4 linked regions of the Homo sapiens genome follow. The protein of the gene in region 2 purifies or fractionates together with the protein of the main gene of each other region. This does not show direct contact. Each region holds a gene or a part of one and is shown on either strand. Other genes may lie near its edges. The genes, in order: POMP, PSMG4, PSMA2 and MELK.

The links.
Region 1: the proteins of PSMG4 (region 2) and POMP purify together in Homo sapiens (affinity purification with mass spectrometry; 2 studies listed by BioGRID and IntAct, with this or other methods). This does not show direct contact.
Region 3: the proteins of PSMG4 (region 2) and PSMA2 purify together in Homo sapiens (affinity purification with mass spectrometry; 2 studies listed by BioGRID and IntAct, with this or other methods). This does not show direct contact.
Region 4: the proteins of PSMG4 (region 2) and MELK purify together in Homo sapiens (affinity purification with mass spectrometry; one large-scale study listed by BioGRID and IntAct). This does not show direct contact.

What each region holds. Positions count from the first base shown.
Region 1 is NC_000013.11:28,668,785-28,673,627, forward strand, and holds part of POMP (proteasome maturation protein), read left to right. Parts: intron 1-3,554; coding exon 3,555-3,648; intron 3,649-4,843. UniProt on the Homo sapiens protein: Molecular chaperone essential for the assembly of standard proteasomes and immunoproteasomes. Degraded after completion of proteasome maturation. Mediates the association of 20S preproteasome with the endoplasmic reticulum.
Region 2 is NC_000006.12:3,261,190-3,265,833, forward strand, and holds part of PSMG4 (proteasome assembly chaperone 4), read left to right. Parts: intron 1-2,494; coding exon 2,495-2,570; coding exon of another isoform or gene 2,571-2,635; exon of another isoform or gene 2,636-2,984; coding exon of another isoform or gene 2,985-3,136; exon of another isoform or gene 3,137-4,644. UniProt on the Homo sapiens protein: Chaperone protein which promotes assembly of the 20S proteasome.
Region 3 is NC_000007.14:42,924,332-42,929,174, reverse strand, and holds part of PSMA2 (proteasome subunit alpha type-2), read left to right. Parts: intron 1-1,715; coding exon 1,716-1,792; intron 1,793-2,506; coding exon 2,507-2,639; intron 2,640-4,377; coding exon 4,378-4,500; intron 4,501-4,843. UniProt on the Homo sapiens protein: Component of the 20S core proteasome complex involved in the proteolytic degradation of most intracellular proteins. This complex plays numerous essential roles within the cell by associating with different regulatory particles.
Region 4 is NC_000009.12:36,669,751-36,674,593, forward strand, and holds part of MELK (maternal embryonic leucine zipper kinase), read left to right. Parts: intron 1-1,247; coding exon 1,248-1,416; intron 1,417-4,843. UniProt on the Homo sapiens protein: Serine/threonine-protein kinase involved in various processes such as cell cycle regulation, self-renewal of stem cells, apoptosis and splicing regulation. Has a broad substrate specificity; phosphorylates BCL2L14, CDC25B, MAP3K5/ASK1 and ZNF622.

The sequences.
Region 1 (4,843 bases), on a different chromosome or scaffold from region 2:
TACCTGCATCTGCTTTCATGTTTTTCTGGGTTTTTTTTTTATGTATTACATTGAATTTGAGATCCCTCTAAGAATATCCAAGTGGAGGTGTCAAGTATACAATTTGTATATAGTTGAATATACCTGTTTCTAAGGAATAAGTACTTGGAAAATGTCCTTCCAATTATGTAAGAACCACCCTCCTACCTGTGCTTTGGATTCTATCCTGTTACATTACTTCAGGAAAATCCCTTTATCAATGATGCCTTCTCAAGCTGATATCTTTAACCCCTCTCTGCTTGCTCTGTCTCAGCAGTAGCATTTGAACCGCTGTTGTCTTTTAAAACAAAAAAAAATTGTATCAATTTCAAATTCCTTTATAGTAACTTGTCTCTCATTGAGTGTGCTTTTGCTTCTTGAAAAGTTGTCTACATTTGCTTTCTATACTCCTTTCCCTGCTATTTATTTAACCCACTGTTTCTGTCTCCCATGACACCAATGAAACTGCTCCTGAACAATGTGGACATTTTTACCTTCACTTTACTTCATCTCCCTGTAGTATTTGACACTAATAATGGCTTCTTCCTTTTTCCCTTGGCTTTTATGTTTTTACTTTGTATTTATTTTTTTGATACAGGATCTCATTCTGTCATCCAGGCTGGAGTGCAGTGGTATGATCATAGCTCACTGCATCCTCAAACTCCTGGGCTCAAGCAATCCTCTTGCCTCACTCTCCTGAGTAGCAGGGACTACAGTCACTTGCTACCTCGCCTGGCTAGTTTTAAAAATTATGATTTGTAGAAACGGGCTCTTGCTATGTTGCCTAGGCTGGTCCTAAACTCCTGGCCTCAAGCTATCATCCCACCTCCTTGGCTTTTAGAACACCACACTTTCCTGATGTCCTCCTTTCTGAATCCTTGTTCTCAGGTGTCTCTGTGTAGGTTCCATTTGTTTTGCCTGTTTCCTAAAATGCCAGTTTTGTTAGTGCCCCATCTCTAGTCCTTTCCTGACCCTATTTCCTACTTGTTGCTTTAGTTATCAATTATATGTTGATGATTCCAACTGGGCGTGGTGCCTCACACCTGTAATCCCAGCACTTTGGGAGGCCAAGGTGGGTGGATCACTCAAGCTCAGGTGTTCAAGACCAGCCTGGGCAACATGGCAAAACCCCATCTCTACAAAAAAAAATACAACAAATGTGCCAGCCGTGGTGGTGCACACCTATAGTCCCAGCTACTCAGGAGGCTGAGGTGGGAGGATCATTTGAGCCTGGGAGTCGGAGGTTGCAGTGAGCCGAGATCGTGCCACTACACTCCAGCCTAGGTGACAGAATGAGACTCCGTCTCAAAAAATAAAATATGTTGATGACCCCCAAGTTACAATTCTCATGAGCTATAAACCTATAGGCTTTTCCAATTGGAAAGCCCAATTGGAAGTCCCACAGGCACCTCCAGTTTTACATGGACAAGTACAGAATAACTCATAATCCCATAATCCCCCACATACTCCTTATCCCATATGAATAGGTTTCTGCCTAAGGCAGAAATTGGATAATTAGCCTTGGTTATGTCACCTAGCACCCATCCTAACCTCTTCCCCTGCTCCCCCAAATCATTCAGTTTATTACTTGCTCTCCCCACCATTGCTACTATGCTGGTCCTTGCCCCTGTCAGACTTCATCTGGATTACTGCAACACTCATCCCTGCTGCCCCTCCAATCCTTGTTAAGACTCTAATCAGAATAATCTTTGTAAAACACAGATTTGATTATGTCATTCCCCTCACTTTACCCTCTAAATAAAAATAAAACCCAACACTTAGTGTGGCTCTGTCCATGAATTGGCTCCTTGCTTCCCACCACACTTCTTATCCTCTTAAACTACTTGCAGTTTCCTAATTCATTAAGTTCTTTCACTGTTAGGCGTTTGCACACATTTCTCCTACTGGTGCAGATTCCTTTCTCTGACCTAGCTAAATTGTCTTTTTCAATAAATTTCTATTGGCCGAGCTGGGTGGCTCATGCCTGTAATCCCAGCACTTTGGGAGGCCGAGGCAGATGGATCACCTGAGGTCAGGAGTTCGAGACTAGCCTGGCCAACATGGTGAAACCCCGTCTCTACTAAAAATACAAAAATTAGCCAGGCCTGGTGGCATGTGCCTGTAATCCCAGCTACTCGGGAGGCTGAGGCAGGAGAATTGCCTGAACCCAGGAGACAGAGGTTGCAGTGAGCCAAAATCACACCATTGCACTCCAGCCTGGGCGACAAGAGCAAAACTCCATCTCCAAAAAAAATAATAATAAGATAAATTCTACTAATACTATCAATTGTATTTGGCTAAGTCATTCTGGAAGCTACTCGTTTTCCAAAGATAAAGCTCTTAAAAAACATGGTTTTGAGTAACCTAGGGTTGAATCTTGGCTTAGCCATCTACTAGTCTTAAGAACTTGAGTAAGCTGGAGAGCTTTCTGAACCTTAGATTTTTTAATTTAATGTGAAATAAGGAGAACAGTAAGAGTAGCATAGGATTATTCTGAAGATTAAATGAAATCACATGTTTGGCACAAAATTGTTAGCTTCCCTTTTTATTTTCCTCTTACTCAGATTTCAACTACAGATTGCTCAAATTCTGGATTTAAGTTTTTAATACTATTTGATCCAAATATCTTTGCCCAGAATTCTCTGTCTTTTTTTTTTTTTTCTTATCTCTATACTTTTGCAGTTTTGGGTTGTCAAGATGTATAACAGCTGCCTGCTCCTCCCTGCTTTTGATGCATTCTTAGGACTGTACTCTGATCTAACTACCAGACCCCTTGCTGTCTGGTTTAATTTACAGGTTCCTATTTTTGTTTCTTCCTCTTCCTCCCACTTCCTTTTTTTTTTTAGGTTTGACAATCTAGAGAAATTTTTCCACACTATAAAGATTTTAAATATCTCTATGGAACATTAGTAATTGAAAATAATATATTTAGTCTGGATACATTTTGTTGGGGGTGGGGGGAATGTGAGAAACTGCCCTCTTAGATTCTAACGGTGTGATTATCTTTAAAATACTACTATCATTTAGTCAAAGACCACCTATTTTGGTAGTCTGTGGGAATATCAAAAATTATCTGCATTAGCTGGGCTTGGTGACATGGACCTGTAATCCCAGTTTTAGTGGGAGGATCACTAGAGCCCAGGAGTTTGAGACCAGCCTAAGCAACCTATTGAGTTGGACTTTCTTCAGGAATTTGATCATCCTACATGTATCAGGAATGAGGCGTGATGTTAAGCTCTGGGATTTTGCATTTCATTACATGGTATATGCCGTAGTTTTCCTGAGCAGAAGCAAAGCCTCAAAATACATGCACACCAGGTAGGATTATTGTTAATGAAAAGTATAATTTCAGTGTCTTTACAACTTAGTTTGTGTCTAAAATATGAACTAGTGTTTTTTTCCACTTGTTAAATTGATCTTGTATTTGGTTTTGCGAATTTTCAAACAAAGAATAAAGAACATGAAATTAGACTATATATTCTGTCATTTTCCCCTGAGTTTTTTCTAATCTTGTCCCTTCATACTTTTCCCCAAAGGTTCAGCGTCTTCCATTTCTTTCAAGCTCAAATCTTTCACTGGATGTTTTGAGGGGTAATGATGAGACTATTGGATTTGAGGATATTCTTAATGGTAAGTGTCATTCAGCACCTTTTTATGGAGCCCTTGTAATTTAAAAGGCAAACAGCTGCAAAAAGAATAGGCAAAATTCTTGTCCTCATGGAACTTACAGCTGATTGGGTTCACTTTATTCATTGCATTAAGATAAAGTTTAATGGTAGTAACTGTTCTTTAACTGTTTTTAAAAGTGAAGATTGGCTGGGTGCGGTGGCTCACGTGTAATCCCAGCACTTTGGGAGGCCGGGGTGGGCAGATCACCTCAGGTCAGGTGTTTGAGACAAGCCTGGCCAACATGGTGAAACCCTGTCTCTACTAAAAATATAAAAAGAAAAAAAGTGAAAATTATTTATGAAATTCTAAGAGTACATAGTCATTTCAGTCTAGTAATGGTGGTTATTCACTTCATGTCCTGAGCTTCAAGTGTAATATGTCAGTCTGATATTCCTAGGGTGACTTAAACAATGATAATTATTTCAGAATTCACATTGTTGGGATGTGACTGGTGTTGTTTTTGTGTGTTTAGTTTGATTTTGGGGTTTTTTGACTAGCATTTTAAACAACTGGAAAATAAATCTTTCTTTAAAAAGTAGCTCCCCAAAAAAGTAATTTTTGTACTTCTACAGGTGATAAATAGGAAAGAGGAATCTGTCTTTTTTTTTTTTTTTTTCAAGATGGAGTCTTGTGCTGTTACCCGGGCTGGAGTGCAGTGGCGCAATCTCAGCTCACTGCAACTTCCGCCTCCTGAGTTCAAGCAATTCTCCTGCCTCAGCCTCCCAAGTAGCTGGGATTACAGGCACCCATCACCACACCCGGCTAATTTTTGTATTTTTAGTAGAGACGGGGTTTTACCATGTTGGCCAGGCTGGTCTCGAACTCCTGACCTTGTGATCTGCCCGCCTCGGCCTCCCAAAGTGCTGGGATTAGAGGCGTGAGCCACTGCACCCGGCCGAATCTGTTATTTTTAATAAAATTCCCTGAATAATTGTAAATGAATTTAAGTAAGAACAATATATGCAGCATCCTCTATTTTTTCTGGTCCTGAGGAAGATAAACAAATACAATCCTGTCCAATGCTGCCTCTGCTCGTTATGCCCCAGCAGTGCAGGAGAAACAAAAATATCCAACAGGATTAAGTTTTATTAGTTTTGCTTGGCTGCTGATGTCCGGTAAGGAAATGCTGTGGACATAACAGAAGTCTAGTGAGCCT
Region 2 (4,644 bases):
GGAGATGGCATCTGGATTCCTTTCTTGCTTTTCTTTTCCTTTTCCTTTTTTCTTTTTTTCTTTCCTGGAGGGTCCTGGCAGTGGACCTTTGAGCAGGCGGCAGCGGAAGAGGCCTGGGGGACCAGGGGTGATGGGTGGGGCTGTGTGCTCTGTGCCACCTCGCATTCTCTCTTTATCCCAAGGCATAGTGGGCAGGGCTTTGGGCACTGGTCAGATCTGGTGTCGCTGCCTTGTGCCACTTTGTGCAGTGCTGGTTTGGGCTGGTAAGTTTGGAAGAAGTAGGCTCCTCCTGTGGGTGGTTTTGGTCACCCGACCCCATGGTGGTCACAGCTCCCAGTGAGGTATATTTTCTCATCTGGAAAGTGCCCCTCCAGCAAAGCCAGGCAGGAAAAGGAACAGGGGATTGATTGAGTTACCTGACTTGTCAGAAGTCCAGTCCCTCTCACTGGCCGCAGTGTGCCTGGGTGTTCTCTCCAGGGGCAGAGAGCCGAGCCAGCTGGGGAAAAGAGGTGTAGGCATTAGCTTAAGGCAGGAAGCCCAAGGTTCCTGTGACCCGTGGGGCGGCCCTCCATCTACTGTCCACCTGTGACCCGTGGGCCAGCCCTCCATCTACCGTCCATGCAGGTAGACTCTGTGGAGCTCTTGTACCTTGGTGGCAGGGCTGAGCAGTTGTAATAGAGACTTTGTAATCCATAAAGCCTGAACTAGTTACTATCTGGTCCCTCTCAGGAATTTTGCCAGCCCACACGTGGAGAATGGCACCAGACGGTCTGTGAGGTCTCTTCCCTCCAGCTTCCCTAAACTCCCACATGTGAGACTGTAGAGAACAGACACCATGCAACCCGGAGCTGGCTGACCTTGGGTTGAGCAGGGATTTTTGGTGCCCAGAGAGGCTGCAGGACTAGTGACACTGAGTCCTACCAGCTTGAGGGAAGCTGGCCTGGGACCTGGGCCCGTGCCTGCTCAGGGATTCTTGGACCCCCCGCCCGGCCTCTAGGAGTGGAAGGTGGTGCTTCAGCTGCAGCAGAACTCCCTGGGCATCTGCTGGGAGACCACAGTCCTAGTGTGATGTCGGAAGTAATGAACTATTAAGGGTGACACGATGGGGCTTTACATTTAACTTTTGGTAGAAAAAGGCCACCCTGGGTAAGGTAGATTTTCTTTTTTCTAGAAGGTTTAACTGTACATACTATTACCATGCAGCTAAATGTTGAACTTGAGGAATCTGTAAACAGCAGGCTCATTAAGATATTTTTGTATCGTTTTTAGTGAAGAAGCATACAGTAAATGCTTTCATTCTTCTCCTGTGTTTTTTGATCTCCTGCCTTTTATTGTCTTTTGTGGAAGTGGCTTTGAACCTTTAGGAGATGAGCAGCGCCTGTGGTCTCTGCCCTGCCATACTGTCTGGCACACAGTAGCTGTTTGTTCAGTTAACTTGTCCCCACCAGGACAGTTGGGGTGGCAGGGGAACCAAACCCCAAAGTCTCTGTACCTCTAAAAACCTTGCCACTTTCCAAGATTCTCAGACCTCTGTAGCCAGGCTGCTTCTCCTAGAAATCTGCTATTTTGATAAAAGCAATTTTGGCCATATTACCAATAAGTGTTTTTTTTTTCCCCCTTTGGAAGCTAGACCTTCTTACTTTATTTTTTTATTATTATTTTTAATAAAAATGTAGAGACAGATCTTACTTCATTGTCCAGGCTGGTCTCAAACTCCTGGTCTCAAGCAGTCCTCCCTCCACAGGCTCCCAAAGTGCTGGGATTCTGGGACTAGCTAGACATTGTTAATGGTGAGAGATTACTCCCAAAGTAGTTGGGAGCAGTTACTCCCACATCGCCGGAGGGCCCATTTGTTGATCTGAGAATCATTTGTACTGCTTGTTTCACCTTACTGCTTCTTGTCTGAAATGAGGTTGGCCAAGCATGTTCAGAAGTTATTTTCCCTATTTAGATGCTGGTGGCTGGTGCCCTTTGTATCAAAGTCACAAGGCACTCGCTGACCCTGAGGAGCCCACAGGGGCTGGAGCAGCATGCTCCCTCACAGGCTGAGATGAGGAGATTAGGCATCCTGCCTCTGAGCCAGCTGCTGTGGGGCACGAGGCACCAGTGCACAGGTGCCCCGACTGTGAGTCACTTTCTTCTTGCTGTAGCCTTAATGATCTTGTTTGCTTCCCTTTTGGTTGTGGTGTTGCCCTTCAGCATGCTTTGGAGTTTGAGACACTAAAACGAGCCTTTCGTGTGAAACTGGTCCTAGAACTTAGTAGCACTGTGGTTCCAGCTTCATCTTTCCCAACTCCGCTGACCTCATATGCGACATGGGGTCCACCTACTTGGTTGTTGACGGACGCCACCCCTCTTTCCCTCGGCACCTGTGCCTGTCCTCTCTGAACCTGCCACTGCCATCGTCGTGAAGAATCAGAAGCCCGGAAGCCAGAAGTGTGGCTGGCCTGCGGGGGGTGGAGAAGCTGCAGTGTGCCCTTTGCTTTTCTTTTAGGACTCCATCCCCGTGTCTACCTCCCTCCTTGGAGACACTTCCGACACGACCTCTACTGGCCTTGCCCAGCGCCTAGGTATGTACCCACAGCTGGCGCTGCATGGCCAGCCAGGTGGGGCCCACTCTTTAATGGAACCATGAAGCAAGTCCCTTCGGAAGTAAAGCATCTTTATGCTAAGAACCATCACCTCATTGCTGCTGGGAAGCACAGACCTTTGCACGTTGGGTCTTATTTAAGGGGCACATTCCATGCTCGCCTGTCATCACCACCGTCCCAGGGCTGGCCTGTTCCCAAAGGACTCCCACCTCGTCCTTGGGTGTGTCCTTGAGTCCATGAGCTGATTTAGTTGCCTTCCGTAAGTGCATCACCACCTCCTGGGAGGAGAGCATGAGAAGTGCCCACAGCCCCTGTGGGTGGTGGCTCAAGGTAGCCTCCCGGGCCTTAGGAGGAGTCAGTGCAGCTGGTGGAGCAGGTGTCACCTCTGTGCAGGAAGGACTGTCCTCACTCAGTGTGATACCGTTCAGGGCTCGGAGGGAAGACTGGCCTGGCCTGTGAGTGTGGCGTAGAGTGGGGATTAAGCAAAGGTCATGAGGCTGAATGCTCCACTCTTCCCACACCCCAACACACTTCCTGTGGGCCAGGTAAGGCTTCCATGTGCTCTGCGACCCCCAGCCCCAGTGCCTGTGGCCAGTGTGCACAGGATGCCTGTCTCCTGCCCAGGCCTGGCGTTCTCCAGTAGGCCCAGCTGCTTCTGCTCTGGAGTCTTCTCTGTGTCTCAGGCACAGGACCTGGTACCTGACAAGCAGGAACCTCTGTGTCAGTCACACTGAGGCAAATGCACACGAATAGCATGGCACCTGGCCCAGGGGGAAGGCAGGGCAGGGTGGAGTGTCACCAGCAGGCCCATGACAGTATGTGGATAGGACAGAGGTCAGGGAGGGCACAGGTCAGCATTTCAGGAACTCGCAGTATTCTTTTTCCCTCCCTTGGAGGTGGGGACCTGACTTGTAAGTTAATTTGGTAATTTTTAACTAGGAAGTAAATTTAAAATTTACAGAAAAGTTGCAAAGAAGATAGAATTCCTGCTTAGCTTTTGCCCCAATTTCCCACTTGCCACCCTTCCCTCTTTGTGTTTGTATCTTTTTTTTTCTGAGCCACATGAAAGTAAAGCTGCCTTTTGTGTCTGTGTCACTCTGTGTGTGTGACTGTGTAAGGGGTAGCACACTTACATGGAACAGGTTACTGCGTGTGGGAGAAGGCTCAGGAAGGTATTCATATTTATACAGACGGAAAGCTGGGTGGGGTTGCGGACACACTCCCATAGAGAAGGTGGTGTGAGCTTGTCTGGCAGGCCGTGAATAACTTTCATATCAATAAGGTAAATTAGTCTCCAGAATATTTGCGAGATGGAGGCCTAGTATCTATATGCAAAAAAGAGGGGTTCTCAGTATCTCGACTGTCTCAACAAGTCACGGGTGTGCCGTGGCTTCCGGCGTCTCTTAAGGGAATGGTGCTGCAGAGCTCGGACCAAGAAGGTTTTCCAGCAAAGTCCCATGCTTTGCCAGTTGCCTTGAGCCTGGGTCTGGGCCCTCAAGTTGAAAATGCACTATAATGAAAAGGGAGAGGTGTCCTGAATCAGTATCTTATATGAGAGATGAAAGCAGGTAGGGAAAGAGAAGGCCTGGGGGGTTCTCAGTAGCTCTGGAAGCATCGCAGGAGTTGGTGTGGCCAAGGGGACCCAACCTCCTATGGCCCTGGAGGGGCACAGCTTGGGTCTGAGGGGCTCAGTGCCTCCAGACACAGCGTTGTTCCTCAGAAATCCTGTCTCTGCAGTTAGAACAGTTGGAATACCAGGGGGGCCCCCTTAGGGTAAAGGGGGATGTTCCTGCCCCTGGGATATAGGGCAGGGTGTGACTTACAGGCTCCTCCTAGGCAGCCTTGGTGAGCCCCAGCTTCCTACCACACTGCCTGCCTTTAGATCACCCTCTACATGAGTGGTCCCAGCCTGCCTAACACAGCTAGGAAAGGATGAGGTTGGTCCCTAATGGTGGGGGAAGCCTAAGAGGCTTCCTCACTCCCCGCAGGGCTGAGCAGATAACTGGGCACAACTCTCCGCCTCGGGGGCACACTGCACCCAGCACACTGGTGG
Region 3 (4,843 bases), on a different chromosome or scaffold from region 2:
CTGTCAGCCAAATGATTGTGGATTCCTGGTATTAGGTTATGTGCTGGAATCCTGACTGAACATAGCTACTTTATTGAGGAAGACAAATATTGTAAAAATAATAAAGAGACCGAGGCAGGAGGATTGCTTGAGACGAGGTGTTTGAGACCAGCCTGGGCAGCATAGCAAGACCCTGTTACTAAAAAAAAAAAATAACAATTCAGATATGATGAATCTTAGACAAAGAGGAAGTGCAGGACATCACAGGCATCAGTGAATAGGTATTCAACTTAATCTTGAGGGTTCAGGGCAACTTCCCTTAGGACATGATTGAATGAAAGGAGTTCACAGGGCAATAGAGAAATGCATTTCAGATGGAGGGATTAGCTTGTCAATGAGGCGTTTGAAGTCTGAGAGTAGTCTATGTGTTTGGAGCAAGGAGGGATGGAGTTGAGATTTGAGTGACCAAGGGAATATTCGTAATTATATGAAGAGAAAATACGGCCTTCTGAAATTTATATTTTCATTAGTAGACGGGAGATAAGGACCTAGCTGTGTCACTTTGGACAAATTACTTTCACTCAGACTTTATCTATGAAATTAGGTTGGTTTATGATGATTCCATTTAAACAACTAGGTTGAAATAAAGGATAACTTTAAAAGGCCAGTTTGAGACTTGCGTTTAGCTACCAAATCCATGGAACCAGATCTGTTAAGTGTGACCATCTCATGACTTCTAGAAATAGTTGTATATTATATAGAGAATACTTAATTGTGAGTGATATCTAGGTCTTATTGTCTTAGGCCATGTCTGTTTTCTAAAACCACCCTCCGACCTGAAATATGTGCTGCTGTTTGGTTTTTAACAGACACATACATGTTCTTAATAACATTACTATTCAGTATGTGCTTGTTACTGATTTTATGCCAGACAGTTTTATAGGAATTACTTCACTTAATCACAACAATGCTTTGAAATAGGTACAGGACACTTGTAGGGGACGGTGATTTCAGTACCCCCACAAATACCAAGTGAGGGCGTATTCAAGTCCTGTAGTCAGCCCTGTGGAATCCACTGATACGGAAAACCAGTTGTGGTTACTGTGTCCTCATTTTACAGGTGAGAAAACAGGCATAGAAAACTTAGGGTGAAAAGAAGCAACAGTAATACCACTGCTCCATGTGGCAGACAAAAAACAACCAAAGAGAAAGTAGTGCTTCAGTAGGAGTATGTTCCAATTGCCTTGTAAACTTGGTTTCTTTCTTTCTGTCTTTCTCTTTTTTTTTTTGAGACGAGGTTTCGGCCTTGTTGCCCAGGCTAGAGTGCAATGGTGCAATCTTGGCTTACTGCAACCTCCACCTCCCGGATTCAAGCAATTCTCCTGCCTCAGCCTCCCAAGTAGCTGGGATTACAGGCATGCACCACCATACCCGGCTAATTTTTGTATATTTAGTAGAGACAGGGTTTCACCATGTTAGTCAGGCTGGTCTCGAACTCCTGACCTCAGGTGATCCACCCGTCTTGGCCTTCCAAAGTGCTGGGATTACAAACTTGAGTCATTGCGCCCAGCTGTAAACTTGGTTTCTGTGCCACTTCATGATAGAGGTCAAAGGCCAGTTACTCCCTGGAGTTGGATAAATTGGATTTGACCTGTATGTCTGTACTATCTCAGAGATGTTCTTACAATAAATATTTGATGATATGTGAACTTACAAATACCTGTGTTTCTTTTAAGCCCGTCTGGTAAACTTGTCCAGATTGAATATGCTTTGGCTGCTGTAGCTGGAGGAGCCCCGTCCGTGGGAATTAAAGGTAATGAAATGCTTCATTCATTTCAGATGCCTGTTAGTAGTTATCCTAATTATTTTGGAATTCATTAGTAATTAATTTATACAGAGCTGCAGCAGTATAATTTTTAACAATTTTTTGTTAATTTACAGTGTTTTGGAGTTTAAATAGTAATAAGTCTAAGGTCATTCAAATTTCTTTTCAAAGTAAATAGTAACACCTTTATCTGTTAGTTGTGATATTCACAATAGTCTTTCTCATTCAGAAAACTGAGTTCTTTTTTTGTTTTTCCACTGATTATATCACTACTTCCTGGCAGTTTTTATCCTTATAATTTAGGAAAGCTTAATTATAAAACATAAGCTAAATGTGTTGTGTTTCACTTTAAAAGCCTGTATCATTTATTGTAAATTTCATGTTATAAGAATATTGGGACAAGTAGACAGAAATCCCTTATTTTAAAACATGTGAACTCTCAGGTATCCTTAGAGTGCTTTACAAAAGTTTATGTAATACCTTTAGCTGTAGGGAGGATTTTTTTGTGTAGTACTAAATGACCAGTGAGGGAAAAACTGACTTACCATTTCTTAGGTAATTTTGGTAATAGGACTCCGGAAGAAAAGGTTTTATAAATTAAAGGAAATAAAGGAGTTTGCGTTTAGCGCATCCATAATTAGAAAGCTGTTAAAACAGTCTTAAAAATGATTAAACATTTATGTCTCTCTCTTTTTTTTTAAGCTGCAAATGGTGTGGTATTAGCAACTGAGAAAAAACAGAAATCCATTCTGTATGATGAGCGAAGTGTACACAAAGTAGAACCAATTACCAAGCATATAGGTTTGGTGTACAGTGGCATGGGCCCCGATTACAGGTACTTTATACTTTTTATAGTGTTTCTCACCATCTCATGAATTGATTGTAATCTGTATTTTCAGGAGAAAAACCAAGGTTGTTTTCCTTTAATCTTCCAGTTCCTCTTTTTTTGTGTGCTTTGTTTAGCAATAGCAGCCTCGTTGAGAGCTGAATTTAGTTTGCCTGTATAGGTTACTTTAAAGAGAATAACTCAGATGTGAAAGAGGAGGTAGATAGATTACATAACTCCTCTTTTCTCTGTTCAGCGGACTTTCTCTTCTGACATATTCCTCTTCTACTATCCAGGAACTGGGCGTAAGGGCTTTAGTTTTCGCCAGTGCAGTTTAAAAATGATAAAAGCAATTTAAGTTATAATAAACTATATTTTAAAAAGTATGAGGCAACAAAAGAAAGTATCACTATCCAGAGTTATCTTTTTTCCTGTTCTTCACAAAGGAACAAAATTCTCAAACACCACTGCAAGTTGTTGAGTGTGGCAGCCAACCAGGATCCCAATGCTTGTGTAATCACCCCCTTTATATTTCACAGGAAGAGAGAATAATCTTGTTACTCAGGGTACCAGCAAGTTGAAAGAGATTGACAGCTTTCTGTGTCTGTCATTTAAACAAGTAAAAGGAGTATTACTTTATTGCTCATGATTTTGTGGAGCAAGATAGGTAGAGGCAAAGTTTCACTTCAGTGAATCAACGCAACAAGGTCAGTGGAATGTGATCAGGCAGTGAATCTTGTCACCACTATATAGGCTGGATACTGCATTGTGCTGCCACTGATAGGATAAACTGAGGGATGGGACATGACTGTCACACAGAGGGAAAATGTGCATATTTCAGATCAGTAGTATATGAGCTGGCAAAGATAAATCCTATTTGTCTTGCTAATATATTTGATTGTTATATAATATCTTCTTAATCTCTTTTGACAAATTTTACTTCTGAAAAAAAATTTTAAGAGACAGGGTCATGCTGGGTATTGCTTTTATCATTTTAAACTGCACTGGAGAAAACTAAAGCCTTATGCCCAGTTCCTGTATAGTAGAAGAGGAATATGTCAGAAAGGAAAGTCCATTAAACAGAGAAAAGAGGAGTTATGTACTCTATCTCCCTCCTCTTTCACATCTGAGTTATTCTCTTTAAAGTAACCCAGGGTCTTGCCCAGGCAGGTCTGAAACTCCTGGCCTCAAGTGATCTTCCTGCCTCAGCCTTTTAAAGTGTTGGGATTACAGGCGTGAAACACTGCACCTAGCCGAATTTTACATTTTTAGTTACAAGTAGTTTCTTACTGTTTCTTAATCTCTGAAGGGTACTCCGTGAAGCACAGGCAGAGAGATTGAAACAGTCTGCAGAAAGTAGTGACCTGAAGTGAGAAAAATATGCCCAGAATTGTGTGCCTGTGTGTTTATGTGTGCTTGTGTGTGTGGGCTGGGGTGAGCTGTAAAAAGACAAGCGGCTGCCCTTGGATGGGGGTACAGTCTTGAAGAAGCCGTGGAGCAAGATAAAGTTCTCATTTTTGTACATTAAATCTGTTACTTTTAAGCTAACTGGTACTCTGATGCTCTGATATTTTCTTCTATATCAACTGGAATCCAGTGTTAGAGTAAGACTAGCTTTGATCCAATAGCCACCATTAAAGAGATACATGTTAAACTTGTGCTGCAGGTACATGCCTGTAAAAGGAGAATGAGTCTTCAGGTAGTAGAGCATGTTCTGTGTAATTAAATCTTATTTTTTCCTTGTTAGAGTGCTTGTGCACAGAGCTCGAAAACTAGCTCAACAATACTATCTTGTGTACCAAGAACCCATTCCTACAGCTCAGCTGGTACAGAGAGTAGCTTCTGTGATGCAAGAATATACTCAGTCAGGGTAAGTTGCTTTTTTTACTTGAAATGTGCCATGAATTGTAGGGGGAAGTTATTTTAAAGAGTAGGTATATAAATAGAGTGGGACTTACCATTTCTGTATTTGCTTAACAAGTGGACAGAATCACTATGATGAATATTTCTGATCTTATCTGGCTCTGGAGTATTTATTTAAGGAAAAAAATGTGTTTTCTTGTTGCTTATGTAACAGCAGAAAGCAGCTTCTAGATATACAAAGTTCTTTTGCCAGTGATTAAAACACTTTATGGACAGACAATCATTGCAACTTTAAATTTTTCTTTTTTTTTTTTTTTTTTTTTTTTTTGAGTCAGAGTCTCACTCTGTCG
Region 4 (4,843 bases), on a different chromosome or scaffold from region 2:
TCCCAAATCGTAAAGATACTGTTGTTTCAAAGAAAATCCTCTGTATGAAAAGTTCTGCAGCATAGGTAACTCTTCAAGTTGCTATTCTTTTATAGCAATTTCTTAAAGGCATTGTCTATTTTCAAGACAATTGGAGAATTAGAATGTGGACAGGGTATTAGATGATATTATGGAATTATTATTAATTTATTGATGAAGAAACTGAGGAGATCAGGAATAAAATGATTTATCAAAGCTATATAGTACAAAGCTGGAGCCAGAACCCAGGTCTTCTCATTCCTAATCTTATGGTTTTTCTCCCACAGTCTGGAAGTGCTGGAGAACTACCTAGAAAGCCAACTAACACCACAGTAGTTTCTATTGAAAAATGCATTCAGGTTCCAAAATATTTACATAACTGACCATTTTTAGAACATTATCCGTTAGTATTTGGTAACTGCTTAGCTTCTCAATAATGTGTATATATGTGGTTGAACTAGTTTCCTTAATTTTATTTAACATTTTTCAGTGCAATGGTACTATGGTTTTTTTAAATCTCAGTGTCAGTGCTTGAAATACTTAACTATCTCCAACCAGAAAAATTTCAGAACAAAAGGATAAAATATGCCTAATAAACAGCCATATGTAACGTAAACTTCTCAGCACACTTTATGGTGTTGTCTTTATGGAAGACAACATCCTTATTCATTGGAGATGTATACTGAAGTGTTTCAGAGTAAAGTGTCATGATATGTTCAGATGAGTTACTTTCAGATGGCTTAGCAAATAAGTAAATTTAATGTATTATCTACATACATTAAATTTATGTGTATATATAGATATATACATTGATGTATATATATCAGTGTATATCTATATACATATGTACATTAATATATTATCTATATCCAAATAGAAAGCAAATGTGGCAAAATATGAACAATTGTTGAATCTAGGAGGATATACCGGTGTTCATTGTACTCTTCTTTGAACTTTTCTATATATATGAAAAAAGGATATATATATCCTTTTTTAAAAAGGAAGGGGATAAATAGTTTTGCTGAGTGGCAGTTGCCTGGTAGAAGTGTGACAGCTCCTGTCCAGGGGGAGATGGCTTTGGTGCTTCCTGAGGAAGAGAGAGGTGATCTGGCCCTGGCATACCTGAGTGAGGCATCCTAATGTGTATGAAGGGACAAAAGTTCACCCTTGTGGACCCCACAGGCCGGAGGCCCAGCTCTACTTGTGCCTTGTTTTATGTTTTGTTTCAGGTGCCGCTCAGTGGAATTGGATCTCAACCAAGCACATATGGAGGAGACTCCAAAAAGAAAGGGAGCCAAAGTGTTTGGGAGCCTTGAAAGGGGGTTGGATAAGGTTATCACTGTGCTCACCAGGAGCAAAAGGAAGGGTTCTGCCAGAGACGGGCCCAGAAGACTAAAGGTAAGCAGGCTGGAATTCTTTCATATGGAGCAGAAGCTGACTGCTAATGGACTGCCTTTTTTTTTTAAGGTGCTGAATGAATTGATTAGTGTTTTTTATTTGAGTATTTATTCACTTAGTTAATATATGTTTTTTGAGCAACTAAAATCTGCATGTTACTGTGCAGTCAGTAAATAGATACAGTCACTCCCTTCAAGGAGCAAACAGCTATCATTCAAATATTCAAGAACAGGTGGAGGGATTAGTCACAGGGGCAACATGGAGGTGAGGAAGCAGGGGGCACAGATGGAGAGCTGAGAGCTGCCTTAAGGAGGGGGACTTGAGCTCAGTTGTGTCCCTGATTCATGGATACTTTGTAGGCCCTCATGAAATATTTGAATGCATGGGAAGATAATTGGAACTTTGAGTGTGGTGTGTGTCAGGAAAATAGTGAGTGACAAGCGGGGAAGGTAGGCCGGAAGGGCCTCAAGGCCTGGCTAAGAAGGTGTGGATCTTATTTAATAGACCCAGTATGCTTTAAAAGGGTTAATGTGTCACTGGTGTGGACAATATATTTAGTCAAGGAAGGAAAGGAAAAATAAGCTGTTAGTTGATATAAAGTACTTTTTATTCTCTTGGATTCTCTCTGAGCATTCATTCAAACATCTGATGAATACATGTTTGTTTGGTGGAAGGGGAGTAATTAAGAGGTAAAGGGACGAATGAGACAGCCCATTCCTTGAGGAACTCTTAGGCTGGCTGTGAAAACAGGCTGGGATGTTGTTCTGAAACACTGGGCTCAGTGCTATAGTAAAAACACATTCCAAGAGGTGTGGGCCCAAGCAGGGGAGAAGATGGTAGTGTGCCCATCATTTGGGGACTGGGTCTATGTTTAGTTTTTGCACTGAGACTCTCGTAATGAGCAAATCTGGGCGGTTTGAGGGAAGGAAAATGCTGAGCTTTTGGGCAGAAGGGTGTTTTAGAGGAGAATGTTCTGTGATCTCATTTCTGTTCTGTCTTAAAGTGGAAGAAGATAGGAGTTATCCACTAGCAGTCATTACCTTGAACTTTTGTAGTGTGCTGAGACGTTACATATGGCTGTGTATTAGGCATATTTTATCCTTTTGTTCTGAAATTTCTCTGGTTGGAGATAGTTAAGTATTTCAAGCACCGACACTGAGATTTAAAAAAACCATAGTACCATTGCACTGAAAAATGTTAAATAAAATTAAGGAAACTAGTTCAACCACATATATACACATTATTGAGAAGCTAAGCAGTTACCAAATACTAACGGATAATGTTCTAAAAATGGTCAGTTATGTAAATATTTTGGAACCTGAATGCATTTTTCAATAGAAACTACTGTGGTGTTAGTTGGCTTTCTAGGTAGTTCTCCAGTACTTCCAGAATGTAGGAGAAAAACCACAGGATTGGGAATGAGAAGACCTGGGTTCTGGCTCCAGCTTTGTGCTGTATAGCTTTGATAAATCATTTTATTCCTGATCTCCTCAGTGTCTTCATTTGTAAAATCTGGAAATAATGCCTACCCTGGCAACCTCACACGGCTGAGATGTAGAAACAAGACTCTACATATGGGATGCTACATGGCATATTAAATGCTTTATGAGTATAAGGTGACATGTTTCCAATGTCAAGGATTACTATCAGTGTTGAGCATTTTACCACCCATGTATAGACCCATGGTCCTAATTAGCACAGTCCTAAGATTGAAAACTTTAACTTTAGATCATTAACACTTTTTAATGCTTTTAAGTTTTTGCAAAACTGAAGGACTTTCTTTGGGAAATTAACCTTATTTTTTTTCACCTACTTCAAATACTGTACTAAAAACTATACACTTACCGGAAGAGTTGCAAGGATAGTAGAAATAATACCTTAGTTTTTTAAGATAGCAAATCATATGTAGTTATGTCCTCTTTTAGGAAGCAGTCTATAAAAAATCCAAAATTTAAGTAGATAAATTAGGATTCATTCTTTATTTTACCAAAGCAGTAATATATTGTGATTTGAAGGTGTTCAGTTTATTATTAATATCATCTTAACAGAGCCAATTTAGTTTGGTGAAAAGAGTGCTGGATCAGGAACCAAGAAAGAGAGGGTCCCTTCGTTAACACTCAGTTTCACGACATTTGCTCTATGGGTGTATTGGGTGCACTATTATTTATCTGGTATTTTCATTATGTTGACTCTCCTTTAACAAATGGATTTATAGAGATATAACTGACATATAATAAACTTGCACATATTTTATTTTATTTTATTTGTTGTTAATTTTTTGAGGCAGAGTCTTGCTCTGCTGCCCAGGCTGTGGTGCAATGGCATGATCATAGCTCACTGCAGCCTCAACCTTCTGGGCTCAAGTCATCCTCCTGCCTCAGCTTCCTGAGTAGCTGGGATGCGTGCTACCACACTTGGCTAATTCTTAATTTTTTTTGCAGAGACAGGGTCTCACTATGTTACCCAGGCTGGTCTTGAACTCCTGAGCCCAAGTAATCCTCCTGCCTTGGCTTCCCAAAGTGCTGGGATTACAGTCATGAGCCACTACACCCGGCCAACTGTGCATATTTTAAAGTACAATTAATATGCTTTGGCATTATATATAACATCTGTGAAACCATTGCCACAATCAAGATAATTTTTTAAAACTCAAATTTATTTAAAAGGAAACCTTTATATCATTAGGGTTTTTTTGTTGTTGTTGTTAATTATGTTTTCGAAATCAGTTGGGAACAAATACATATTTAAAAATATTTATCCATGTGCCACCCAGAATTACCTTGTCTATCTTGTATCACACTATGAGAAGCACTACCTTAAGAAATTTGTATCTCTTCTTTGGGCCATAGGTTCTTATTTTGAAAAGTAAGATAGTTGGATACTTTTCTTCCTAGGCATTTTGTTATTTATACAATGAACTCAAACCTGAAAGATATAGAAACTATGGTTTTGTTTGACAGTGAAGGTACTTACCAGGAAGGGAGGGATTTTTGTGTGTCCAGGACCCACTAAAACAGTGCCTACCACATAGTAAACATTCAAAAGTAGTTGTTGAATGAATGAAGGATAAATATCAATTAGGAATGAAATTATCTCTGAGAATTAGGCTCTCAGTCAATGAGAAAAAATAATATGACATCACTTTTTTAAAGGAATACCTGTTACATTTATTTCCTCATAGAACTGTCATAAAATCAGCTCCTGGAACTCTATAATATTCTTTAAATAATCCAGAAAGAGTTAAGGAAACATATCCAACTAGGTACAAAGCAAACTTTGTATGGTGTTTGTTTATCTTTCCGTGGTATACATTTCAGGACTGTTAATGTCTCTTAAAATAGTGTGGGAAGGGGAAAATAGGCAAAGCTCAAACAGTTAGATGGGTGCTCTTTAATATTTATTTCTTTAAAAGGATTGGTAGGAGAGG